Homo sapiens: one gene and its partners. The protein of the gene in region 2 interacts with the protein of the main gene of each other region in a pairwise test. Each region holds a gene or a part of one and is shown on either strand. Other genes may lie near its edges. The genes, in order: MFAP1, PINX1 and TLK1.

Region 1 (8,070 bases), on a different chromosome or scaffold from region 2:
TTCAAGAATATTCTGGAATGTAATTTCCACTTGCCAGTGGTCAGCTTTCTCATTTGCTTTTTCCTTCTGAACAATATAAACTCAGAGAAAAGCATCAGCAATTGGATGACAGAAGTAGCATCAACTGTTCTCTCTTTTGGCCCCAACTCTCAAAAATAGGAAATGATGTAATAGACTTTTTTTTTTTTTTTAAGAGACAGAGTCTCGCTGTCACCCAGGCTGGGGTACGGTGGTGCGATTATAGTTCACTGCAACCTTGACGTCCTGCGCTTTACACCTGCTTCAGCCTCCAGAGTAGCTGGGACTACAGGCATGCAACAACCATGCCTGGCTTTTTTTTTTTTTTTGGTTATTTTTTTTTTAATTTTTCGTAAAGACCAGGTTTCACTATGTTGCCCAGGCTGGTGTTGACCTTCTGGCCTCAAGCAATCCTCCCACCTCAGCCTCCCAAAGTATTAGGAATACAGGCATGAGCCATCATCCCCAGCCTTAGATAAATTGAGGAAATGAAATAGAGAAGTGATCTGTACAGATAGTGGACTAATTAGGTCCTCCACATGACATAGTTGTCATTCTTTCATAGCTGAATGAGAAGTTTTGGTTATGTGAAAACCAAACTCTGCAAATAGCTTTACATTAATTCACTTTTGGGTGGCAGAAAGTTAGTTCACTTCATTCTGAACTGACAGTACCCAAGAGTAACTAACCAAAAAAAATGGTTTATTATCTAACCATTAGATGGAATGCCGTCATCTTTGTTTTTCATATAAAGACTAAGATCAAAATAGCAATCTGTTAACCCTGTATGGTTTATTTCCTAATGTTAAAGCAGTTTGCACCAAAAACTAGACTAGCTTTTTCAAGTGCCGTGTGGCAAATTCTAAATATCCCCACTGCAACTAAATTCCTGCCTTTCACTGCAGATGCTGTTAAAACTTCAGTGGCGGCTTCCCTGCCACCCTCCAAAATCAGTTTCAGGTCTATCTGATTAGCAGGAAGTGTTTACTTAGGTAGTTTTCCAGCAGATGTAGCTTACTATTCAGTGGAGATTATGAACTACTTCTTGTACTGCTTCGGTCATAAAGTTTGTTTGCTTAAGCAGTTCGCAGCTTTAATAATCAAGTTTCTTAGAGAAGCAGTTCATTGCTAGTTAAGATACATAAGAAAAGTGTATGTGAAAGTCCTTTGGTGGGCCAGGTACATTGGCTAATGCCTGTAATCTTAACATTTTGGGAGGCAAGGCCAGCAGATCAGTTGAGCCCAGGAGTTCAGCCCGGGCAACATGGCAAAACCCCATCTCTACAAAAAATACAAAAATTAGGCGTGGTGGTCCGTGCCTGTAGTGTCACCTATCAAGGGGCTGAGGTGGAAGGATTGCTTCAGCCCGAGAGGTTGAGGCTGCAGTCAGCCGTGATCGTGCCACTGCACTGCAGCCTGGGTGGCTGACCAAGACTTTGTCTCAAAATAAATTGTTTTTAAAAAGTCTTTCTTAAACAAGATAGTGCTATTTTTAATTCCTTCAGCATATGTGTTTATAAATATGTATCACAGCATTGTAATATTATCACTCAGGCTAGAGTGCAGTGGTGCAGTCATGGCTCACTGCTGCCTCATTCTCCTGGGCTCAAGCAGTCCTCCTGCCTCAGCCTCCTGAGTAATTGGGACTACAGGTGTGTGCCACCACACCTAATTTCTATTTTGTAGAGATGGGTTTTGCTATGTAGCCCAGGCTGGTCTCAAACTCCTGGGCTCAAACTCTCCTTCCACCTTGGCCTCCCAAAGTGCTGGGATTACAGGCAAGAGCAACTGCATCCAGCCTTACTAATGTTGTTTATTTCATTGAGTAAGTAAGCTTTAGTGCATATACTATGCAAAGGTCACTGTTTAGCACTGTTAGCGAGAATACATAATCACTATAACATAAGTAAAAGTAAAGTACTGTAGGGGTTCTGACGAGAGAGATGTTATATTTGGTAGAAGATTGAAAGGGTTGACGTAAAGGTTGTAACATTTAAGCATTTAAGATGTATAATTTTGGGCCGGGCGCGGTGGCTCACGCCTGTAATCCCAGCACTTTGGGAGGCCAAGGCAGGCGGATCATGAGGTCAGGAGATTGAGACCATCCTGGCTAACATGGTGAAAACCCATCTCTACTAAAAATACAAAAAATTAGCTAGGCGTGGTGGCGGGCGCCTGTAGTCACAGCTACTTGGGAGGCTGAGGCAGGAGAATGGCGTGAACCTGGGAGGCGGAACTTGCAGTGAGCCGAGATCACGCCACTGCACTCTAGCCTGGGCGACAGAGTGAGACTGTATCAAAAAAAAAAAAATTAAATATATAATTTTTTTTTTTGTCACCTAGGCTTGAGTGCAGTGGTGCGATCTTGGCTCACTGCAACCTCCGCCTCCCGGGTTCAAGCAATTCTCCTGCCCCAGTCCCCCAAGTAGCTGGGAATACAGGCGTGTACCACCACGCCCAACTAGTTTTTGTATTTTTAGTAGAGACGGGGTTTCTCCATGTTGGCCAGGCTGGTCTTGAACTCCTGACCTTAGGCGATGTGCCCACCTCAGTATCCCAAAGTGCTGGGATTACAGGCGTGAGCTACTATGCCCGGCCAAGATGTATAGACTTTTTGACATTCGGTGCTGGGAAGACATTCCAGGTGGAGACCAGCAGGAGTGGAGGCAGAAAGCATCAGCTGTGAAGGGAAGCGGCAAAGAGAACTGAAAAGGTGGATTAAGGCTGTATAATATTTGGCCTTGATTACTACACAGAGGAGTTGTATTCATTTATTTATTTATTTATTTATTTTTGAGATGGAATCTCGCTCTGTCACCCAGGCTGGAGTGCAGTGGTGCGATCTCAGCTCACTGCAACCTCCACCTCCTGAGTTCAAGTGATTCTCCTGCCTTGGCCTCCTGTGTAGCTGAGATTACAGGTGCGCGCCACCAGGCCTAGTGTTTTTTGTATTTTTAGTAGAGACAGAGTTTCACCATGTTGGTCAGGTGGGTCTTGAACTCGTGACCTCGTGATCCGCCCGCCTTGGCCTCCCAAAGTGCTGGGATTACGGGCGTGAGCCACTGCGCCCAGCCTAGGTGTTGTATTCATTTAATAGACAACCATTGAAGTTTTTGAGCAAGGCAAAGATTATAATGAGTTACAGTCTAGAAACATCAGTGCCATGACAGTATGTGAGACTGATAGTAGAGGAAAACTAATAACCCAGGTGGTAAGAGTTTGTAAGATGTGGCAACTGATTGAATGCACACAGAGGTTACTCAGTTTTGAATCTAGGTAATCGAAGAGTACGCTGGTCCTACTAACAGAAAAGTTAAAGAGAAGAGGTTGATATGGAAAGGTTAGGTATTAATAAATGGTTTTCACTTTAGACGTGCATTTCAAGTCCCAATAAAATATCCAACTTATGATATATGAAAGCCAGTAAAAAATCCAGGATTGCAGATTTGAGAGGCCTATGCAGAGTTGAAGTCACATGAGTAAACAAACACATTGAGTGCAGAGAATAAGCCAACCTTCAAGACACGTCTACACTCAAGGAGAAAATTAGGCATAGTTGCATGCACCTGTAGTCCCAGCCACTCAGGAGGCTGAGGTGAGAGCATCGTTTGATCCTGGGAGGTCAAGGCTTCAGTGAGCAGTAGTGACCCCACTGCACTCCAGCCTGGACATCAGGACATCAGAATGAGACGCTGTCTCAGGGAAAAAAAAAAAAAAAAAGGAGAAATACAACAAAGGAAAAAGAATATCATCTCGGCCGGGCGCAGTGGTTCACACCTGTAATCCCAGCACTTTGGGAGGCCAAGGTGGGCAGATCGCAAGGTCGGGATATCGAGACCATCTGGGCTAACACGGTGAAACTCCGTCTCTATTAAAAATACAAAAAATTAGCCGAGTGTGGTGGCATGCACCTGTAGCCTCAGCTACTCGGGAGGCTGAGGCAGGAGAACTGCTTGAACCTGGGAGACGGAGGTTGCAGTGAGCCAAGATCGCGGCAGTGCACTCCAGCCTGGGCAACAGAGCGAGAGTCCGTCTCAGAAAAAAAAAAAAGAATGTCATCTCTTCAACTAGATGTAAGCTCTTGAAGAAAGGCTCAATACCCTCTGCTTTCTCTGTATCCCTTATTGTAGAGTTTAATAAATTTGTGGTTTGAATATATAGGAAATAAAGCCACAAGATTGATAAGATTTTTTTTATACAGGATGAGGATGAAGAAGTATACAAGAGAGATTTCAGCGCTCCTACCCTGGAGGATCATTTCAATAAAACCATTCTTCCTAAAGTCATGCAGGTATGGGGAACCTTAATAACATGACAGAGAAAAGTGATGTATTGATAGCTGAGGCATGGTTTGTTTGGTGGTATAACTCATCATCCATCCTTCCCTCAGGTCAAGAACTTTGGACGCTCAGGTCGCACCAAATACACTCACCTTGTGGATCAAGATACCACCTCCTTTGACTCAGCTTGGGGCCAAGAGAGTGCCCAGAACACAAAGTTCTTCAAACAAAAGGCAGCTGGGGTACGAGATGTATTTGAGCGGCCATCTGCCAAGAAGCGGAAAACTACCTAGGGTCCAACTGCTTATTCTTCCAACTGTGGAACACAAGGGGAGTCTCAGCATCTGGTCCTTGATTTGGTTTTTTCATTGTTTCCTTGGCCCCTGTATCCAGATATTGGACTTACTGCTATACTTGTGATACTGGGTAGCCCAGACTTTGAAGGTGCTTTGTGAGGTTTGGACTCATGCTGAGAAACCCACAGGAAAGCACTGTCCAGGTAGGATTAGAGGCTTCCCACTTAAAACTATTTCTGAGAAATCTTAGGTTTTATCACTGCTATGGTTTCCCATATTTACTTGGGACTGTTCTGACTTTCTTTTTCCAGCCCTTAGCTTGGGTTAGAAAAGTGGACATGTAAGTGAACAATGCATTACTTCTACCTTAGGTTTAGGAGTAATATACCCGGAAATCTAAGCTCATGGAAACATGTTTTCCATTTTTGCTTGGAGTCCGTTTTTCTAGTTGTACATACTTTTTGATCCATATATGTGTGCATGTCAAGAAATAAAAGAATCACACAACAAGGAGATTTTTAGCATGATACTGGAAATAAAATGTCCAAGCTGACAAGTATTAATTGCCTATTAAAGTAAAAGATAACAATTGTCAGGCAGAAGGTGTTTCACATTTTGATAATTCCCTTTGATCTCAGAAACAAGCTCAGGTACTAGCTTGGCTTTAGGTAGCATCTGGATTTATTCCATGACCAAATACAGATGTTTTTGAGAAGACCAAGGTCTTCTCACATCCTTTAAATGTCCCACTGGAAGAATCAAATAGTTTAGTGTCGTACGATAAAAATGAATGCAAATAATTACTATGAGGTGGTAAATACATAAAGATGAACACAGGTACAAGTCACTGTTGTGTGGGATACAATCTAAGAATTATCCTAGAGTCAGAATGAGGGTAAGGCCTTGAAACTCTTGGAGAAATGTCTGTAATTGCCATTTGAGTGTCCTTACAGCAGACTCAGGGGCCGTTGCAGGGTTTTTTTTTTGTTTGTTTGTTTGTTTTAAAGAGACGGCTCTGTTGCCCAGGCTAGAGTGCCTCAGCCTCCCGAGTAGCTGGGACTACAGGCGCCTGCCACCATGCCTGGCTAATTTTTGTATTTTTAGTAGAGACGGGGTTTCACCATGTTAGCCAGGATGGTCTTGATCTTCACTTCGCGATCCGCCCGCCTCAGCCTCCCAAAGTGCTGAGATTACAGGCGTTGAGCCACTGTGCCTAGCTGGGGCCGTCACAGTTTTATAGTTGAGGAAACTAGTTCAACATGTGTGAGTTGGTCCAAGCTGATTTTTTTTTTTTTTTTTTTTGAGATGGAGTTTCACTCTTGTTGCCCAGTCTGGAGTGCAGTGGCGCGATCTCTGCTCACTGCAACCTCCTGGGTTCAAGAGATTCTCCTGCCTCAGCCTCCCTAGTAGCTGGAATTACAGGCGTCCACCACCACACCCAGCTAATTTTTTTTTGTACTTTTAGTAGAGATGGGGTTTCACCATTTTGGCCAGGCTCGTCTCAAACTCCTGATCCCAGGTGATCCACCTGCCTCGGCCTCCCAGAGTGCTGGGATTATAGGCATGCGCCACCACGCCCGGCCCTGATTAACCTTTAAAGTAAAATTACCTTCTCTCTAGGATAGGAAATGGCATGTAGAATGTATTATGGCTTAGAATTTGAATACCAATCAAAACCTTTCATAGGTTTTTTTCGTTTTGAGACAGTCTTGCTCTGTCGCCCAGGCTGGAGTGCAGTAGCACAATCTCAGCTCACTGCAGCCTCAACCTCCCAGGCTCAAGCAAATCCATCTCAGCCTCCAGAGTATCTGGGACCACAGACAGGCACATGCCACCATGCCTGGCTTTTTTTTTTTTTAATTTTAGTAGAGACAAGGTCATGCTATGTTGCCCAGGCTGGTCTGGAAATCCTGACCTGACACAGTCCTCCCAGCCCAGCCTCCCCAAAGTGCTGGGGTTACAGGCATGAGTCACCACACCTGGCCCAACCTTTGATATCTTCTAGTCTTACCATGTTCTAACCCTCAGGTACCTAAATTCTTTTTTTGGTGGTGGGGGGAGCGCGGTAGAGACGAAATCTCACTGTGTTGCCCAAGCTGGTCTCAAACTGCTGGGCTCAAGTGATCGTCTTGCCTCAGCTTCCCAAGGTGTTGGGATTACAGGCATGAGCCACCATGCCTGGCCCCTAAATTCTTTTTTGTTGTTTTGTTTTTGAGACAGTCTCGCTCTGTCACCCAGGCTGGAGTACAGTGGCACAATCTCAGCTCACTGCAACTTCCGCCTCCCTGGTTCAAGCAATTCTTCTGCTTCAGCCTCCTGAGTAGCTGGGACTACAGGCATGCACCACCACGCCTGGCTAATTTTATTTTTTTTGTATTTTTAGTAGAGACAGGGTTTCACCATGTTGGCCAGGCTTGTCTTCAACTCCTGACCTCATGATCCGACTGCCTCAGCCTCCCAAAGTGCTGGGATTACAGGTGTGAGCCACTGTGCCCGGGCTTTTTTTTTTTTTTTTTTTTTTGAGATGGAGTTTCACTCTTTCCCCCAGGCTGGAGTACAGTAGTACAGTAGTGTGATCTCAGCTCACTGCAACCTCTGCTTTCCAATTTCAAGCGATTCCTGCCTCAGCCTCCAGAATAGCTGGGATTATAGGCGCCCACCACCATGCCCAGCTAATTTTTCTATTTTCAGTGGAGACGGGGTTTCACATGTTGGCCAGGCTGGTCTTGAATTCCTGACCTCGTGATCTACCTGCCTCGACCTCCCAAAGTGCTGGGATTAGAGGTGTGAGCCACAGCACCCAGCCAAATTATTTTTTTTTAATCACTCAAAATCAAGCATGTTGTAGGTACCAAAATTCTAACTCAAGGTGGCCTATGAACTGGGTTCATAACCTACATCTATCTATATATATAGTGGCTCCTAGGCAGGTAGCTGGCCTTTTAGATATTCATAAGCTGTCTTGGAGACACATGCCATTTGAGTACAGTAACTCTGCTGAGACTCCAGATGTACCTTGAATACTGTTGAGAGCTAGTCAGATGAATGAGACTGGCCTGCCACCTAGCATCTGCACATGAGGTATTCTTCTACACTGATTTTTCATACAGGTGTGCTAGATTTTAATGGGTCACTTAAATTCAGTTAGTCTCCAACATATAAATTCTCCACAACATAGGATATAGTATACACTCTACTTGACCCAAGATGATAAAACTGAAAAAGACAAAAAAAAATTTTATTGCCATAAATTAATCCAGTAGGTATATTTGAGAAAGCACGCATCAGTTGGTTAGGGCAATAAGCGCCTCTACCACGTTGCCCATGTGTTCCCGCAAACTGCGTTCTGCTGCTGCTCGAGATATCTCCATCTCAGTCATCTGCAGAAAAAAATCATGTTACATAGGTTCCCAGGCATTAATGTGCCACCAAATATACTGACTCCGCTTGTTTCAGGAAACAACCCAAATTAAGCA
Region 2 (7,881 bases):
ATTTTTCTGCATCATGTCATTTCAGGTTTATCTGTCATCACTAAAGAAAAAAAAAAAACATTGATTCTGTAACTGCCTGATGGGTTTCTCTCGCAGGCTAACCAGATAGACCTGGTTTATCAAGACAGGGGAATTGCAATAGAAGGTTTAATACACATAGAGCTAGCTAAATGGGAGACTGGAGTTTTATTATTACTCAAATAAGCTGTCCCGAAAATTCAGAAACTGAAATTTTTATACAGTAGTTTGGCAGGCAGGAGGCTAGGGAATGGGGATTGCTGATTGGTTGGGTTGGAGACGAAATCATAGGTAGTCGAAGCTCTCCTCTTGCATGAGCCACTTCTTGGGTAGGGGCCACAAGACCAGACGAGCCACTTTACTGGCCTGGGTGGCTCCAGCGGATCCATCAGAATGCAGAATGTTATGGTCTATTATAAAACACCAATCTTAGGTTTTATAATAGTAATGTTATCTATAGGAGCAAATAGGTAGGTTAGCAGTCTTGTGGCCTCTGGCTGTATTATACCTGAGCCATGGTGGGGCTGTTTCAGGGAGGGGCTGTTATCATCCTTGTTTTAAAATTAAACTATTAACTAAATTCCTCCCAAAGTTAGTTCAGCCTACACCCAGGAATGAACAAGGGCAGCTTGGAGGTTAAAGGCAAGATGGAGTTGGTTAGGTCAGGTCTCTTTCATTGTCATAATTTTCTCACTGTTATAATTTTAGCAAAGGTGGTTTCAATTCAAAGGCAAAATTTGGTTTCTTGGCTTAAAACCTTTACAGTTCTAATTTGCCAGTTACAGACAGAATGATTCTACTTTTTAAATACTTGACTTTTGTAAGTACTCACAGCTAGTATACAAATTGTAGGTTATTTGAAATAGTCAGAGTATTAGCAATTTCTGCTTCCGGCCATGATGGAGTAAAGAAACTGGATTTACCCTTCCACCTTCACTACAAAGCTGGGAAAAATAGACAAAACAATGGTTTTGAGACATTGAGCAACAGGCAGTGAAAGACTGCAATCCTAACAATTTGGTAATAAAGGAGGTGAGCCCTTTGATAGCCCTCATTTCTGGCCTGAAGAGTTTCCAGGTTGCAGCATAGGGAGACGGAACTCAGACAGAACCTGGAGGTCTCACTGAGCTAAGGTGACAACAATCAAGGAAGCTAGGATTCTTGGGGCCGAGTGTCAGAGAGAAGAGAATTATACCAAGGGAAACTCCAGATATTTGCAGAAGCGTCCCCTCAAGTCTTCAAATGAAGATTGAGCAACACTTGCACTGGAGGAAACTACTGGGAAAGAACCACCAGAGACAAGAAGGCAGAAAAATCCCCAGAGCTCACACAGGGCCAAAAGCAACTTGCGTTTCCCCAGTGGAAATAATTTCTAAACACATGGAGCATCAAGCAGAGTCCTTGACAGGCTGCTGCTTTAACAATGGGACCAGATTATAACTAAACTTAAAGACTATTGTGGGCCCATCTAGCAAAACTTACACAAAAGGCTTGCAAAGGCCACATTTTCCCCAAAGGACTTAACTATCCCAGAACAAAATATTTGAAGGAATACAAAAGCCTTCAGCCCCCAATAAAGTAACACTCACAATGTCGGATGTAAAATAAAAAGGTTACCAGGTGTGAAAGATGCAGGAAAATATGACTCACATCAAGAAGAAAAATGTACCAAAAAAAAAAAAAAAAAGCATTAGGAAGATCAAACAACAACCCATAACCTTACCAACTAGATATGGTTTTCAGTGAAGAATTAGAGTATTACCTTTTAGACTTTAATTTAATATGTATTTTTTAATTACTGATATTAAATGAACTATGAATGATCAACTTGGTGTCCTAGAGATTTTTTCCCCTTTACGTATCTTGAGCACTTTCTCATGTGTATTTCACTTTTCTGCTTGTAAGAATCAACATTCACTTGGCTTACCTTATGTAATGGGAGGTATATTAGAAGTATGAAAAGGAAATAAGACTCTCAGCTAAATGAACCAAGGTAGGAAAAAAGACAAATAATCGGACCTCACAGGGAGTGAAGGACCAAGAGTGCAGCCAGGCTCTGCAAGCAAGTTCGCTGGGGCCCCAGGGCCTCTCCAGAGCCTCAGGAGAAGCTGTTAGTGAATGAGTGTTCCCTCTGATGCTCTGCCTTAGGGAGATCTAGCCCTTATTATCTCAGTCTTCCTTCTCTTCATACATCTTTTGGCTTCTTTTGTTGTACAGAATGGCTTCTGGCCTGGATCATTCAAATCCGTCCTACATGCCTGATTAGTGTTGCCTAGTCTAGAATTTCATATAAATGGAATCATATAGCATGTACTTCTTCCACTGAGCATCATGTTTTTGAAATTAATTCAGGGGCCAGCGAAATTTTTCTTAAAGGATCAGACAGTAAATATATTAGGTTTTGGGGGCCACACAGTCTCTCCCAACTGCTTAGTTCTGCTGGTGTGGCCAGAAAGCAGCCAAACAATAGATACATTAATGAGTGTTTATCTATTGTTTAGCTGCTTTCTGGCCACACTAGCAGAACTACGTACTTGGGAGAGCCAACTACCTGTGTAGAAAAAAAAAAAAAGAGAAACTACTTTACCCTTGAGTCCATTCATACCTTTGCTCATGTCATGGACTGTTATGCAAAGAAAGGTCTGTGGATCATTGGTATCCACATTTTTAGACCCTGTTATAAATGCAGAATCTGGCTCATGCCTGTAATCCTGAAACTTTGGGAGCTGAGGTGGGAGGATCACTTTAGCCCAGGAATTTGAGACCAGCCTGGGAAACATAGGGATATCCTGTCTCTACAAAAAATAAAAATAAAAAAATTTAGCTGGATGTTGTGGCACATGCCCGTAGTCATAGCTACCTAGGACACTCAGGTGGGAGGACTGCTTAAGTCAGAGAGGCAGAGGCTGCAGTAAGCCATGGTCACACTATTATGCTCCAGCACGGACAACATAGTGAGGCCCTGTCTCAAAAAAAAAAAAAAAAGGCAGAATCTCAGACTCACCCTAGGCCTGCTGAACCAGATGTGCATTTTAACATGATCTCTGGGTGACTGGCGTGCACAGTCATGTCTGTGAAGTATTGCCCAAGGGAGTCTGCTGAGACACTGAAGGACAAGATGGAATGGGTTACATTGGATCACCTTCTTTTAACAAGTGCAATTTCCACTCCAGCTGGCCAGTTAAAATACAAACAAGATTCTGTAATTTTTTTTAAATCCCAAACTTAATAATATTCTTTTTCAGTAGATGATCTCCATTAATATTTCATAGCCATATAGAATGCTGGGGTTGAAACAAAATAGGAAACCATCCTGCATTCACCAAAAGGCAGAGTCCCTTCTACAATATTCCTCTGTGGCCTCTAACTGAGCGTTTCCAGGAGACACCTCATTGTAACAGAAGATCCAACGATAACTAACCATTTACCACCTGAACCATGGCAACAGGCCATAAATGTCTGCTTCGATCTTCTTGACCATCTTAGAGACAAAATTACCTTTCTGAAATCATATACCAACACAGGAGGTGCTTGAAAAACTCTGATTTCCGACTAATTCAGTATTCTCCATTCTATATAACTACCTTCCACTCTCTCTGGCATAATCCAATAGATCTGCTAATTATCCTAAGATTTTTGTGATCCTGCCTTCCTGAGTCCAGTGCCCTACTTTTAACCTTGTTCCCTATGTCACAATGTCACAGCTTTCCTGCCTTGGCTGGGAAAATTCCATTCACTTGCCTCCCCTCACCCCCTCAGTATTCACTGATAGCTATAAGCATCCTTTTGTGTTTCTTCTAACTTTTATGAAACTAGGGTTTACCTTTTTCATCCAGATTCCTAGTTAAAGGGAGAATTTCATTGTAAACAAGAATCTAGTCCTTCAATTGCTTTTCTTGGCACCTGAGTGGTGCTCTTTTTACCTTCCTTTTATGTAGGAAAGGCTTCTGTGTGCACTGTCACCTGAAGTTTACTGGAGAGTCACTCACCCAAAAACATGTCTTTACCATACTTAAAAGTGTTATAGCTAAGAGCTTATTAGAACTCCCCTGGAGACAGGGATACTTGAATTAAATTTTGCAAACATCTATGGAGCCTTACCATACTCACATTATTTTGCGAGGTGCTGGTACGAATACAGAAATGGATATAATAAAGGCAACCTTCCAGTGTGTGCACTGTGGTGGAGAAAATAAATAAAACCTTTGCCTTGTTGAAGGCATCCCATTATTTAAAGAGGTAACATTTTCCCCACAACTATTTTGTGTGGGGTCCCACAAAAAAACCGATAGATAGCAGACCTATCTTCTGATATCTATCTACTATCTATCTATCATCTATCTATCTATCTATTTATCTATCATCCATTTGTTTATCTATCTCAGAAAGCAGAGGTAGGGTACGAGGAAGAGATGGGACATTACAATGCAAAGTCCTCCCCTCCAGCCAAGTTTTTCAAACTCCTTGTCCATACAACATCCATGACCCTAAGTTCAGCTCTTTACACATTTCTTTTCCCCGTGAGGCTGAGCTGCTTGAGGGCAGGTCACGTCTTTCCACTACCCTTCTTGCCGGCACCTAGGGCTTCCTGATGGAGACCCTACAGGTAATCCACGTGAGCTTATGCTCCGCGGCAGACACGCCCAGGCGGGCTTTACTCACATCAATAGCTTAGTACGCACACTCCCTCTAGCCAATGAGCGAATACGTACTCCTTTCTCCACCTCCCGCAGGGCGGCCACCGCCCCCTCAGTCCCTCTTTCTCCCGTCACCTCCCCAGGTTGCCCCGCCCTGCTCCGCCCCCTCGCCGCCGCGTGCTCGAGGAGCGAGTCGCGCGCTACTGACGTCACCAGCACGCGCCCCGTCCGCTGCAGTCCGCCGGCGAGGGAGTTACGCACGTCCTGATTCTCCTGGAGTCTCCAGCCCGCCCAGTGGCCGCAGTCACCCAGGTCCAGAGGCGGCGGTATCACAGGCTCTCCGACATGTCTATGCTGGCTGAACGTGAGTGTCGGAAGCGGAGGCCCGACCCAGGCGCGTTGGTGAAGATGCCGGGTGACGCGCACGGCAGCCCGGAGTGGCTGGGAGCTCGGGTTGCCGGCGCGCCTGGCGCATGGGATCGGGGGACCGGGGAGCCGAGCCCGGCTCTGATTGTCCTGCTCGCCGCAGAGCTCCCCGAAAGTTGGCCGCAGGTCTGCTAGTGAGAGAGACCGCAAGTGTCTCCCGGAGACGCCGTTCTCAGAATCACCCTGGGTCGCGTGCGAAGTGGGTCAGAACACCGGGTCCCGGGACTGGCCCCGCCGCCGCCCTTTGTGGGGTCCCGGACTGGTTGCTTCACCCACCCCGGACCTCAGCTTCCTGAGGTTAAAAAGAGAAGGTTGAGCAGAAGGATCACTTGAAACTGTAATCACATTGTCCAAGATGTCTTGGACCCAGAAAAAGAAAAAGCAAAGGAGTTAGAAGTCTCAAATATGGGACGTCAGCCACTTAGCGAGGGAGTGCAGGGCTAATGTGTAATTCTAAGTGAGACTGGCGTTTTTGACCTTGTTAGTTGGCCACAGCGCCCCGTCCTGCCTGTTTACCTTTGACATTTATCTTCACTTGGTGGAGTCGGTGAAACCCCTGTCTCTGTAGAGGCTGCTGAACTTCTGAATTGTACCTGTAGCGAAGGTCGCTTGCCGCCAGATGGCAGTCATGCTTTGATCCTGAAAAGCGGGTCCTGCTTGGCGAGTTGTACAGTGAGCAAAGAACAGAAACAGCTTATTTAACAGATCAAGCAGACCAGCACAGGGATTTTGTGAAATAAGTGCTGTTAGCACTCTCTTTTCTAAGAGGGTGGAGGACTTAGGAGCACAAAACGAAATGGGTCAGGCACCATCCCGATTTTACAGGGGCAGAAATTGACGTTCAAAGGAAAATAATTTGCCCCTAGTCATTGAGGTAGAAAATGGCAAAATTGATCCAGTTATCTCTGTATCTTTATGTTCTTGCCAGTAAGACCAGCGGAGACCCATAGAAATGAGTATGTTTTAGACTGAACCCGTCGGTTCTATTTTTTCACCAGTAAAAAATGAGGAGTCAGGGTTAGAGCCTAGATAGCTAAGATCTCTTCTGGTTTTCGTATTCTTTGATGTTTGCTTAATTCAGCATGCACTTGGCGACTTTGGCCCTAGTTCTGCTATTCATTTATGTCTGTTCCTTTGATCAGTGTTTGTGAGGCCACAAAATCTTCTCTTAATATTTTTATCCCTAGGTGGCCTTAAATCAGTGAGATGGTGAACATGAACATAGTTTGAAAAGTCTGAAGTATAGAGGTGTAAAATGCTATTTGTAGGCATCAGTAATTCAGATTACATGATTTCAAGAGAGTGTTTTCAGTTCTCCTCTTCCCAACGTTATTCCAAATTGTCAAATCCTTGTCATTATAATATGTAATATTTTTGTGTTTTCTTTTTCGTAATTTGCTAAATGGGTATAGCATCTTCTGTAATTAGATACTTAGGATTGGTGTTGTTAAGAAGAAAAACCTTAGACAAATTATACAGAGTTTGATTGAGCAAAGAATGATTCAAGAATTGGGCAGCCTTCAGAACTAGAACCGGTTCTAAGAACTCCAACCTGCTATGTGGTCAGGCAGTATTTATGGACAGTAAACGGAAGTGAGGTACAGCGACAACTTGGTTAGGGTTACCGCTCTGATTTGCCTTATTTGAATCAGATGGCTGCCTGTGATTGAAGCCTAGCTGCTGTAATGGATTGAGGCTCACTTATATGTTATAAGAGTATACTCCTACGGTAGGCTTTCGCTTCCTTTAAGTTCTAACGTAGGTTGCAGTTCCTTATGTAAGGACTCAAGTACGGAGGCCTCCTCAGGCCAAATTTAATTTAGTGTAACAATACTCTCCTTCTGATCAACCTCTGAATTTTGAGAGATTGTTTAAAACTTCTGCCTCTGGCTCTTGGGACTCAACACGCCCTTTAGAGTAAATGGGATCCTAGCATAAGTCATGTGGTATTGAGCTGTTGTGTGGATGGTTTTTATTGGATTTGCCCCAAAAGTATCCCGACAGACCCATTTACAGTTAGATCTCCACATAGGAGTACCTGCTAGAGGATGGTTAAATACTTCCCAAATAGTGATTCTGCAGATTCAGGGCATTCTACCTGAGGCCCAGCGCCATGCTGTAAACACTGCTGTTCCAGATCGTGTCAAGGGTCCCCAAGATCATCCCCAGATTCAATGATGTGCTGGGGGATTCAGGCACAGGACTCAGCATATAGTCGCACTCACTGCTAAGATTTATTACAGCAAAAGGATGTAGAGCAAAGCCGGCAAAAGGAAAAGATGCACGGGGCAAAGTCCAGGCTAAGCCAGGCGTCAAGCTTCCAGAGCCCTCCCCCAGGGAGTCACACATAACACGCTTAATTCCTCCAGTAGTGAGTTCTGAGAGCAAATATGGAATGTTGCCCACCAGGGAAGCTAGTGAGAGACTCGGTGCTAGGGATTTCCTGGGGCCTGGTCACATAGACACCCTCTACCTGGGAGGCACCAAAATTCCTGGCTCGCAGAAGGAAAGCAGGTGCTCAGCATAAACTGTATCATTTGCATAAACAGGCACAATGAGCCACTCTTACCAGTTCTGCGAATGGTGGGAACCCTTGAGTTCCCTGTTATGAACAGGCCTTTCAAAGGATAGCAGTCAGGCCTTCTGTGTTAGTGAACAAAGCTGAGATCTGAGCACAGAACAGACTGTGGCATGAGAATTACAAAGGACATGTAAAAGGTGATCCAATTGGAACAGCTCAGAGGCAGTCTTTTCCTTACCATGATTTTCCACACCTGGAAACTTGGGTGCCATTAGAGCT
Region 3 (12,407 bases), on a different chromosome or scaffold from region 2:
GCATTTGGGGACCACCCTATTGTACAACCAAAGCAATTATCCTTTAAAATTATTCAGGTAAATGATAATTAAAATGTTTTTTTCTATGGCTTCTAAGAAACCATTGACTAACTTACTAACAACTAAGATGTCTGTTTGTTTTATATGTAGTCATAAAGCAGAATTACACATCAAGAAAGATAACTTACTAAACAAAAACAACAGAATTTGTAGGAAGGAGTGAGAAACTGAAACACACAATTTACTATCAGCTTTTTAAACAACCGTTAACATGTCAGTTCTGTTTACTGATTCTTTCTGAACTTAATTTCCAAGTATATGTAATTGATATTTTGTGAAACTGCTGTATTTTTTAGAAGTGGACATTAAAGCCTCTCATTTGACTGTATTTATTAAATACGTATATGTGACAAATTATAAACATTATTTGAATTATTTGTATATTTTCTATACTTATTTAGTTTCATGAATTTGAGCACTAAGTTTTTCATTTTAATTTTTTACATGTGACAGTTTCTGAGTGGCACTTTCTCAGACTGGGGTTTGGGAGAGTAGATCTTACTCTTCAAGCTCAGCTTGACAGTTTATTTCTATTAGACTGTATTTGTGAGGTCATATCCAAACTGTTGTGCATGTATCAAAACCTCTTTCTTTGGATGATCCTGAGGCTAGGATTAGAAGTACATTCCTTTCAGCCACTGAGTAGATCATGAAAGGTTTTGCTGCATGAGATGTTGGTCAAAGGACATAAAATTTTAGTTGGAAAGTAAGTTCAAGGGAACTATTATACATCATAGGGGCTACAGTTAAAAACAATATTTTGTGTATATGAAAATTGCTAAGAGAGTAGATTTTATTCACACCACAAAAAAAAGATATGTGTTAAATAACTTGATTTAGCCATTCCACATTGTATATACATATATCAAAACATCGTGTTGTGTACCATAAATAGATAGGTTTTTACTTATCAATTTAAAAAAGGTCTTGCAAAATTCAAAAAAATCAACTAGAGGAACGTATAGCACAAAGCAGCGGATATATTGAATTATAATGAGGAACATCAGTATTCTAAGTAATTGGCCTTTCTAGATGTTTCTTGGTAAGTCTGTAGCATTTATACACTTGAAGTTATTAAAACTGCACTAAAACTTTTTGAGATTCACTTTACATATACACACAAATATATTTTTCTTTACCTTTTGAATTTGGAGTAAAATCTAGTTTTATGTTTGCTTGAAACAACATATATAATGGAGATAATAAAATAACTTTTTTTCATTTAGACTGATCTCACAATGCTGAAATTAGCAGCATTAGAAAGTAATAAAATCCAGGACCTGGAAAAGAAGGAGGGACGTATAGATGATTTGCTCAGGGTAAGTAATGAGTCATAGAGGGGAAAAAAATTGAATAAATTATTTGGCAACAGTCAAACTGTTCAGAAAATACTTAGCATTGTAAAAAAATCTGTAGCTAGGCCAGGCGCAGTGGCTCATGCCTGTAATCCCAGCACTTTGGGAGGTCGAGGCGGGCAGATCACAAGGTTGAGAGATCAAGAGCATCCTGGCCAACATGGTGAAACCCCGTTTCTACTAAAAATACAAAAATTGGCTGGGCATGGTGGTGCGTGCCTGTAGTGCCAGCTACTTGGGAGGCTGAGGCAGCAGAAATGCTTGAACCCGGGAGGTGGAGATTGCAGTGAGCTGAGATCACGTCACTGTACTCCAGCCTGGCGACAGAGTGAGACTCTGTCTCAGAAAAAAAAAAAATTCTGTAGCTAGAACTCAATAAGCTTTTTCTGTTAGTTTAAGTACATGATTGAAAAATACCAATTTTAAAGTGAAATATTTTATTAGATCTTCAATAAATTGGGAATTGAGAAACTGTTGGAGAACTGGAAGTTAATAACATTTATATGACCAACTACCATAACACAAATAGCCATTTCATGTTAAAGTTTATTGATTTTATTATATGCCTGACATCTGATACCTATACGATGAAGTAACTGCTGCAGTTCTGTAGGATTTTTAATGGAAGCTTTATTTAAAAATACATCTAGAAGTATACTTAAGAATGTAAGGGTTTAAAGCAGCAGTTCTTACCCCTTGATGCTCCTTAGACTCACCAGTTGGGAAGGGTGAAAGTACTAATGCCTGAAACTCTACCCTGAGGGGTTCTGATCAAGTTGATGATGATGTAGGTCTTGGACATTGGTAGTTTTAAAGGCTCTCCCAGATAACTTTAATTTAAGACAGCATTGAGAACTACTGGTGTAGAAACTCGATAAAACCAACACCTGTGATCCTACTGTATTTGACAGTGTCTTTAAAACATCCAGTGTGTCTTTTTCCTGATCCTGTCATATTTACTTTCTCACACCCATTTACCATTTAACCACTATTTTAAATTTTGTATTTGTGATGCCTTGGTGTTTCTTTATGGTTGTATTAAATATGTGCTTACATTCTTCACAACATATTATTTCAGTTGGTTTTTGAACGTTAAGTGAAATTTTCCAGTATGGACCCTTTTGCCCAGCTTGTTTTCAATGAAATATATCAGAGAGTCATCCACTTTGATGAGTATAACTGTAGTTTGTTCATTTCATTGCAATATTGTAAGGTGTTACAAGTATACCATAATTTCTGTATCTTTTCTGCTTTTAGTTGACATTTTATTTCTACTTTTTCTAGTATAAACAGTTCTAAGAACATTCTTTGTACATGTCTTCAGGGCACATATGAAAGAATTTTTCTGTGGTATATGTTTAGGAAAGACATAGCCAGAGTACAGGGCATACGCATTTTCCATTTTACTGTATAATACCAGTTATTTCTCAAGGTTTTTTGGTCTGGTCTTTTTTTTCCCCCGCTAAGTGACAGGGTCTCACTGTGTCGCCCAGGCTAGAGCACAGTGGGGGATCATAGCTCACTGTAGCCTCAAACTCCCGGGTTTAAGCAATATTTCTACCTCAGGCTCCCAAGTAGCTAGGACTACAGGCTCATGCCATCACTCCGGGCTGATTTTTTTTTATTTTGTAGAGCTGGGAGTCTACAGGCTGGTATTGAACTCCTGGCCTCAAGTGATCCTCCCACCTTGGTCTCCCAAAGTGCTGGGGCTATAGGCATGAGCCACCATGCCCAGCTGATCTTTCAATATAAATTATTAGTCTTACTGAAATTGGTTTTGGGTATGGCATGATGTAGGGTTTCATTTCAATTTCTTTCTATATGGATAACCAGTTGTTCATCCCCATTTAATTAAAAGCTCATTCTTATACTGCCAGCTCTATCATCATAAAATCTTGTTTCCAGTATACAGGTGGATCTGTTTCTGTGTTCTGTATCATGTTTCCTTGTTCTGTTTGTGTCTCTACACAAGTACTGCAGCATCTTTTTATCATTGTTGATAAAACAATTTTTATCAGTTGTTTTTGGCTGTTAGTAACAGTGAACATAAATAACAGTACTTCAGATGAGATAGAAGCTTATTTTTCAAGAGAAGAACAGAAGTGGGCAGCTCAGATATTATTACTCCTCAGTATCATAAGGGACCTTGTCATTGTTAGTTCATGGCTTATATCTCAAAGGTCACATCAAGGTTCAATATATCTATTAGGGTCACAATTATATCTGTGTTCTAAGCAGATAACAGGAGGGAGGATGGGAGCAGAGAACACAAAGCACAATTCTGTGTGCAGCCTTCTTGGATATCTCATTGAACAACTTCTGCTTGCATCTCATTAACCATCCTTCGCTCTAAGGGAAGCTGGGAACTGTAGTCATTTGGCTAGGCAGATAGCAATCCAGGATAAAACATTGAATTTCCATTATTAAGGAAGGAGGAGGCTTGGGTGATCATAGTTATGTAGCTTTATGTTAAGTCATGATACATGGTTAAACAGATATCCTCTTCTTCTTTTTGGCTATTTTTGGCCCTTCACAGTCTTAGAGAAATTTTAGAATCAGGTTTCAAGTTGCATATGCATCATACACACACAGTGTTGAGATTTTGTTTGAATTGCTGAGGGTCTATTGGTGCTAAATTCTGTTTCCTCTTCCTTGAAAAACAACTGTGTTGGGTATCTAATTTTAGGTTGGCAATTCTTTTCTCTCAGCACTTTTAAGATTTTGTGCCCTTGTCTTGTGGATTCCACCATGGTTGGCCTAGACTTTTGATTCTCAAAGTGTGATCTTCAGACCAGGAGCATCAGTATTACTGGAGAACTTATTAGAAACGGAAATTTTCAGGTCCTTCCTGAGACCTGATTCAGAAGCTCTGGGAATGGTTCCCAGTAATCTGTTGTAACAAGCCCTATAGGTTATTCTCTTGCCACTGTACTAATCAGACTCATCTTTTGATGTTAGAAGGAAGCCTCTTCTCTGAGCATATGGCCACCTACAAAGTGAACAGAATTAGTATCCTATTGCTAAGGAAGAATGGTGAGGACAGTTGTTGGGTAGGCAACTTGTGTATGTCATTTATAAGTTCAGTGGAGAAAATATTTTGTTAGTTATAAGAGATAGAGGAAAACCCACATTTAATTTGTTAATTATAAGAGATAGAGGAAAACTCACATTTATTTTTAAGTGATAGACACTTTATATACCATATTTTAGTTATTTTTAACAAAGTGAGGTAGATTGTGTTGCTTCTATTTAGAAATAAGAAAGCTGAACTAAAGTTCTTATAACTTAGCCAAAGTTAACCTTAGAGTATGGATTTGAATGTATGGATATGGATACAAATTTCCCTGTATGTACTTTCCACTACACACTTAAGTAACATTTAACAGTATTATCTCATGGTTAAGTAGGCTTTTTTTTTTTCTCGTATCATACTCAGATATTTAATATTATTAGTCCTATCTGTATATAATTTATTTAGAACATTAAAACTATTTCTAAGCTTTTCATATTCCCCAGTCTAGACCTCTTGCATTTTCTACTTATGTCATAGGCTAACTGTGATCTCAGACGGCAAATAGATGAACAACAAAAATTACTTGAAAAATACAAAGAACGATTAAATAAGTGCATATCAATGAGCAAGAAACTTCTTATTGAAAAGGTAGGCTAAAAGTTGAGTAAATTTTCGCTTTCCCTTCATTAGCCCCTTTTGCTTTGTATGCTTTTATAAATTAATGAATACAATTGAGTGATGATTTTTTTTCTCCTTTTCAGAGTACACAAGAAAAGCTGTCAAGCAGAGAGAAGAGTATGCAAGATCGATTACGCCTCGGGCACTTTACAACAGTTAGACATGGCGCTTCATTTACTGAACAATGGACAGATGGTTTTGCATTTCAGAATCTTGTGAAGTTAGTCATTCTTAACATTTAAAAGTTTTTAGTATTCGTTTGGGTTTTCATTACTTTAAAAGATTATAGATTTGTAATTATGCTCTCCAGTTCCTCGCTACTCTGAAATCATAGAATTTAGTACCTTTGAAAGGGATATGAAACCAAGAGTATTACAGTTTTAGCTTAGTAATTTCTTGATTAATTAGCAGTCATCTATAGAATGTAATATATTATTCTAATTCTGACTTTCCGAGATATTAATTGAACCTTTAGCTTTACAGATGATGTTTTGAGAGGGAAATTGTTGAAAATTTAATTTTCACTGGAAGATTTGTGTGTGTGTTTATTTCCTAGGATTTTCCTACTTAGTTTTTTCCCATTCCCCAATCCTTACATGTTAATGTTCAGCACTTGCCTGCTCTCTATTCCTAAGGGAAAAAACTTCTCTTTTGCCTCAGATATAATAACTGATTTATCAGTTAAACTGAACATGTGGCTTTAGCGTTTCTGAGGTAAACTCTATTTATTATTTATTTATTTTAATTTCAACTTTTATTTTAGTTTCAGGGAATATATATGCAGGTTGTTACAGGGGTATATTGCTTGATACTGAGGTTCGGGGTACAATTGAACCCACCACTCAGGTAGTGAGCATAGTACCCAGTAGTTTTTCAATCCTTGCCCCTGTCTCTGCCTCCTTCATCTTTGTAGCCCCCAGTTTCTATCATTCTCATCTTTATGTCCATGTGTCTCCAATGTTTAGCTCCCACTTATACATGAGAACATGCGGTGTTTGGTTTTCTGTTACTTTTCAGATCAAACTTTTAAACAGAGGAATTATAGTTACCATATTTTCTTGAGTTCAGATGGTGGTAGAAAAGGATTTATTGGCTGTTTATGTGTTAAGGAGTGCTAAATATGCTACTCCGTTTTTGGTGGAAAATTTTTTTAAACCTGAAAATGGGGAGTAATGCCAGCATGAACATCAGCTTTTCCAGAGTATCCAGTTATTTGAAATAGAGGCAGAACTTACTTTCACATGGTATCACACCAACATTGCTGTTCAAACACTGCCTCCTAGGACTTGCCACAGAATGGCCTTCTCTCTCAGCAGATTTATTCAACTTTTCTTCAACATATCTGTGCTAGTTATACCACAGTGAAACAAAGGATAATGTCCTTGTGATATTAGAGAGTTTGGGTTTCAATTCTGCAGATAATGGGACTTGTTAAAGGTTTACATATAGTGTACGTGATCGGAATGATATCTACAGTGATAGTTGTAGAATAATAACTGATGGTAATGTGAAAATATTATTAGAGGATGAATGTTATTGGTAGTTAAGATGGAGGGGTATCCAGATGAAAGGTGATTAAAGCATGAACTAACATATCAACAGTAAAGTGGAAAGCAGGAGAAGATAATTTTTTAGTGTTTATGAGCAAGAGGCTCTGCTACTAAACCCAGACCGGCAATTGTCCTGCAATGAATAAAAGAGACAGTTATATAATTAATATGAATGTTCTGAAATATAAATTCTACTAGTAGTTCCAATTTCTCCTCTTAACTGTCAGAAAAGAGGCCACAGGTGCAGTGGCTCACGCCTGTAATCCCAGCACTTTGGGAGGCCGAGTTGGGAGGATCACCTGAGGTTGAGAGTTTGATACCAACCTGGCCAGCAGGGTGAAACCCTGTCTCTACTGAAAATACAAAAATTAGCCAGGCATGGTGGTGGGCGCCTGTAATCCCAGCTACTCGGGAGGCTGAGGCACGAGAATTGCTTGAACCTGGGAGGTGGAGGCTGCAGTGAGCCGAGATCATGCCACTGCACTCCAGCCTGGGCGACAGAGTGAGAGTCTGTCTCAAAAAATAATGTCAAAAAAGAAAATAATTACTTGTATGTCCTGACTTTCACTAATAAGCATTTATTGAGGACCTACTGTGTGTATATCAAGCCGTTTATAATTGGTGATATAATCCAGAGTGGTTAGAAGATGAGAAGAGAAATAAATAAAAGTAATAATATTAATCTCTAAACTGTATAGTCATCCCTGAGTAATCAGCTATTAATATCTATTCCAGTAATTCTTTACTTTCCATTAATATTTTAATCATTAGGATTATTATTGCTTATTTGCATTTATACCATCTTGATTGTGCCCTAAAATAGCCTTAAGATTTACTTATTAAAAATTGAAATTTATTCCTGCTTCTAAATGAAAACCGGATTAAAGTCTTGTTCTCACTTTGCTATTCTTGAGATTTTTCTCTACCCTTTCAATCTTCTACCTAGATTCTTCTTGATTTTTTTCACTCCTATCATATTCTGCTACTTTATCACTAAAACCATAGGGAAGGGGATGTGTGTAAGGTCAATTCTGCATTAGCAAAGTAGGAGCCCTTTAGTTGATGTCAGTGGTTGGGGAGAGGAGGGCATGAAATATTTGACTTGCTCTAAGTATTGTAACCATGTAGGATTTGAAAATTTTTTATTGGCATAGTGAGGTGACCTGAAAGAGAACATGGTTACTGTTAGAATAAGCTTAAGGTGTTGTATGATAAGTTGGTTTTAAAAAGCTTCACTGTTAACTACTTTATGCTCTGCTCAAACTGCTAAAATATCTAATCTACATTTTAATAATAGACATGGTATCTATTCGTTTTTAGAATTAGGGAGCTATTTGCAAAATTGTTTCAGTTTCTTGAATGGGAAGCATTGATTTTATTTTTGTTACTTTCCCATTTTTCAGAGCCATGCTAATTTTTCTTGCTATTTTCTTGTCTTTTTCCCCTTAAATTATCAAAAAAATTTTTCTCATAAATTTCTTATATTAAGGTTAATTTGTCTCATTTCAAAACACCAACTTCCCATTACCAATTTTTTTTAACAAAAGTAGATTTAGAAAATAACTCTCTTCACATTAAATTCATATTTGCCTTTTGTAAATTTGTTTGCAAATACTGTGGTGAGATGCATGTGTAACATATACCCCATACTTTAATAGTTTGGGGTATTGTTTTATCTCATTTCATTCAAGAAACATTTACTGAGCAAAGGTAAGTGATGATCACTACACTAGGTACTAGGGATACAACAGTATAAATACTGTATAAATAGACACCATCTGTGTTCTTAGGGAGTGATGTCATCTAACCGGACACTTTCTGATAAAGTATCTATAGGAATAATATTTATTAGAAAGAGTGAGGTGGGGAGATAGAAGATCCCATGAAATTATATATGGCAACACATCTTTCCCTAATCTAGGGGTTTAGAGAATACCTCACTTAAAAAAATTCTTTCAAATGAGACCTGAAGGATAAGTACAAATTGGTTCACAAGAGTGGAACCAAAAGGTTACGAATGTATATTTTATGGTTTTTCATGTTTTTTATGCATTTTTTCCAAGTTTAGCCTTGAAAAGTAATGGAAGGTTAATATGGTTTTATTTGTTTATTTTTACACAGGCAACAAGAATGGGTGAATCAGCAAAGGGAAGATATTGAAAGGCAAAGGAAACTTCTAGCCAAACGCAAACCTCCCACAGCTAATAATTCTCAGGCACCCTCTACCAATTCTGAACCAAAACAAAGGAAAAACAAAGCAGTCAATGGAGCAGAGAATGATCCCTTTGTTAGACCAAATTTACCACAACTGTAAGCCTCCATTTAAAATTTTTCTTTTTTAAAATTGTTGCCAGTGAGCGTGAATGTTACTAATGGATGTTATTTATAATTAATACTTAGATAGCAAAAATGATTAAGACCAGGAAGGAAGGCAGTATTGAAAATTTAGCTCTAAATTAATAGCCCCAAATATCTGAATTCTACCGTTTTAAGCAGAGATTTAACAATTCTCTTTTAAAACAGAGACCTAGGTAGCTAAGAGGTTACCAGAATTCACCCTTCTGTGTCTGAATCAGTTAGGAATCAATTAAAAGTTTTGGATTATTCTAATTCAACGTTTCCATTCACATTCCTTTGTCTGAGAGAATGAAGTAATGTAACTACCATTTATATGTTTTCTCAGCCTGTGAAAGCAGTTCATTAGTGGGTTATAGGTATTGTTTTTCCCTTTCTGCTTTTCTTTGTTTTCTGGATTTTCTTTGTTAATGAATTATTCTTTATAATTTAAAGGACAAAGACATTTTTTAAAAGAAAATTTGGAAAATAGGACAAGAATAATAATATAGACCATGATCCCATTTCACAGAGAACACCATTGTTAAAATTTCAATATACAGATGTATCCAAACTTACATAAATTTTCTGTTCTAGAAGAACTTACGTAAACTCACGTGAGTAGAAAATACATAGACCGGGCACGGTGGCTCATGCCTGTAATCCCAGCACTTTGGGAGGCCAAAGTGGGTGGATCACGTGAGGTCAGTAAATTCTCAGAGAGAAACCCCGTCTCTACTGAAAATACAAAAATTAGCCGGGCATGGTGTCAGGCACTTGTAATTCCGGCTACGCAGGAGGCTGAGGCAGGAGAATTGCTTGAACTTGAGAGGCGGAGGTTGCAGTGAGCCAAGATCGTGCCATTGCACTTTAGCCTGGGGGACAAGAGTGAGACTTTCTCAAAAAAAAAAAAAAAAAAAAGAGAAAATACATGTACCCTCTAATGTCTTGTATGTCATGTATTCTTTTCTCCTCTATTGAAAGATTGTCTGTCATCCATGCTTTGAATCCCATCCACACCTGTATCAGGAACCTCTTCTGTTGATACCTCCTTTGTGCTCTGCTTGTTACTTCCCTTCCAAAAACATGTAAGCAAAACCATTAAAAAACTCTCCCTCAATTACAAATCCCTTTAGTCTCTATATTCTGTATGTTCTCTTCATAACTAGGCTTCTTCAAAGAGTTGCCTGTCCTCGTAGTCTCTTCTGCCTTGTCTTCCAGTTGCCCTTTCTTAACTGAAATTTTTCTTAAGATTATCTTCCTGATGCTAAATGCTGTAACATTTGGGTCTTTAACTTACGTAGCAGCACTGAATATTGTTGACTTATTTTTTTCCAAAAAGACTATTTTAGTTTTGAAGATACTGAAGTTTCCATTTTAACTCATCCGGCTGCATCTTCTCAGTCTCTTTCTATGGGCATCATTTACTTACCAATCTGTAAAATGTAGATGACTTTTAGGGATATGTCCTAGGCCGTCACATTTCTCACTCTGCGTATTCTCCTTGAGTAGTATCTACTCTTAGGGTTTCGGTTACCGTATACATCCTGCTGACATCAAAATTACCATCTCCAGCCCACTTTTCTCTTGAGTATCGGATACTTCTGTCTCAGTCTTGAATATCACATCCTGCTTAGTTGCTATCAGTACTTAAATGTCTCACAGGAACTTCTAATGCAGCCTGTTCAAAACTATATTTACTAAAAACAAATAAAACCTTGTATTTACTGTTATCTTTCCGATTCAGTCTGTCTTTACACACACATACTTTGCCCCTTTTCTGTGTTCTCTTAGTGAGTGGCACTACCATCCTCTCACATGTAAGAATTCTAGTTGTCACCTTTAACATTTTAAGTACAGATTTTATTTATTTTTATTTTTTATTGTTTTGAAGAGATGGAGTCTCCCCATGTTGTCCAGGCTTGTCTTGAACTCCTGGGCTCAAGCTGTACTCTTTGCCTTGGTTTCCCAAAGTGCTGGGATCACAGGCATGAGCCACTGCACCCGGCCAGATTTTGTTGATTTTTTCTTAATCCATTAGTAATTAGATGGTGATAGTATTAATCTTTCAAAGTCCATCTCAAAATGTACTTTCTTCTTAAAGCCTTTCTTAATTTTCTTGAGCTGTTGTAAGTTACAATTAAAACATTTTGACTATATTAATTTTTTAAAAGAACTGTACTTTTTGTAAGTTAGTAAATTTGTTTAAGAAAAAACCAAAAGCCAGGTGAATGACTGGCTTGGTGGGTGATTGTATTAAAAGAAAGTGTGGGCTGGGTGGGATGTCTCACACTATAATCCCAGTGCTTTGGAAGGCTGCGGTGGGAGGATCACTTGAGTCCAGGAGTTTGAGACCAGCCTGGCCAACATAGTGAGACCTTGTCTCTATTTCTTTAAAAGAAAAAAAAAGCAAAGTATGTGTTAGCTTTAACTCTACCCTGTAGATGCCCAGTCCTGCTAGATACCAGATATGTCCACTCATCCTTTATGCAAGTTCCCGCTAACACCATTCATTCTAACTCAAGTTAATGCTGTCTTTTACTTGGGTGATGTTTATAATCTCTCCCTCTTCCCGCTTCAATTTTGGTCTCTTCCTGCAGTCTGTTTTCATGTCGTAGAGTCATTTTTCTGAAATAAAAATGTGATCCTTTCATTCTCTTCCCTATAACCCTAACAAAGCTCTCCAGTACTTGAATGATCTAACCCAAAAGTCCTAATATGGCTTATAAAGCACTTTTGATCTGGCTCCTTCTTCGTTATCTAGCCTCATTGTTGCCATCACTCAGTACTTCTACTTCACTGCCAACATTCAGACTCTCACCCATTGTCTTAATTTCTGTTAATCTGTTAAGTCCCACGGTAGTTATCGCTTCCTCCTGGAAGCTTTTCTTTAATATATGAAAGATGGGAGTTATTTATTACTTTGAGGTATCACCATAGTAAGTACCCTCTATCTCTTCAGTCGCAGCATCAATGTCCACTCAGGTGATGACACTAGGAATCTGCCTGTCATCTTAATGTTTCTCTTTCCCTCATTCTCTGTGTCTGTTTCCATAACATTTTCATGTTTGCTCCATTCTTCATTTTCACGGTCACTGTCTTAGTGTAGGACCTTGGTTTTTTTTTTAACCTAGATTACTATTTTTCATGTCTCACCATGTTTAACCTCTGTCAGTGGCTTTCTAGATAAAATTCACCCACATGAAGACCCTTTATGTAAACCTTATTTCTCACTTTATCCTCATTCTCCAGCATTTGCCCTACATATATCTTAAGTTAAACTTTTTCAATTCTCTAAATGGACTGTGCTTTCTTGCTTCTGTGACTTTATCTTGTTCCTTACCTTTCTTCATTTGTCTCATTTCCTGTTTATCCTTTAAGACTTGGCTTAAATGCTGTCTTCAAAAGGAAGTTCTC

Evidence for each region.
Region 1: the proteins of PINX1 (region 2) and MFAP1 interact in binary tests that used the Homo sapiens proteins (3 or more experiments, as listed by UniProt).
Region 3: the proteins of PINX1 (region 2) and TLK1 interact in binary tests that used the Homo sapiens proteins (3 or more experiments, as listed by UniProt).

What each region holds. Positions count from the first base shown.
Region 1 is NC_000015.10:43,801,615-43,809,684, reverse strand, and holds the end of MFAP1 (microfibrillar-associated protein 1), read left to right. Parts: intron 1-4,219; coding exon 4,220-4,309; intron 4,310-4,408; coding exon 4,409-4,591; 3' UTR 4,592-5,193; downstream 5,194-8,070. Other genes in the region: HYPK (huntingtin-interacting protein K), read right to left, coding at 7,879-7,974. UniProt on the Homo sapiens protein: Involved in pre-mRNA splicing as a component of the spliceosome.
Region 2 is NC_000008.11:10,836,876-10,844,756, reverse strand, and holds the start of PINX1 (PIN2/TERF1-interacting telomerase inhibitor 1), read left to right. Parts: upstream 1-4,881; 5' UTR 4,882-5,000; coding exon 5,001-5,019; intron 5,020-7,881. UniProt on the Homo sapiens protein: Microtubule-binding protein essential for faithful chromosome segregation. Mediates TRF1 and TERT accumulation in nucleolus and enhances TRF1 binding to telomeres. Inhibits telomerase activity. May inhibit cell proliferation and act as tumor suppressor.
Region 3 is NC_000002.12:171,042,733-171,055,139, reverse strand, and holds part of TLK1 (serine/threonine-protein kinase tousled-like 1), read left to right. Parts: coding exon 1-57; intron 58-1,286; coding exon 1,287-1,379; intron 1,380-4,965; coding exon 4,966-5,076; intron 5,077-5,189; coding exon 5,190-5,326; intron 5,327-8,777; coding exon 8,778-8,966; intron 8,967-12,407. UniProt on the Homo sapiens protein: Rapidly and transiently inhibited by phosphorylation following the generation of DNA double-stranded breaks during S-phase. This is cell cycle checkpoint and ATM-pathway dependent and appears to regulate processes involved in chromatin assembly.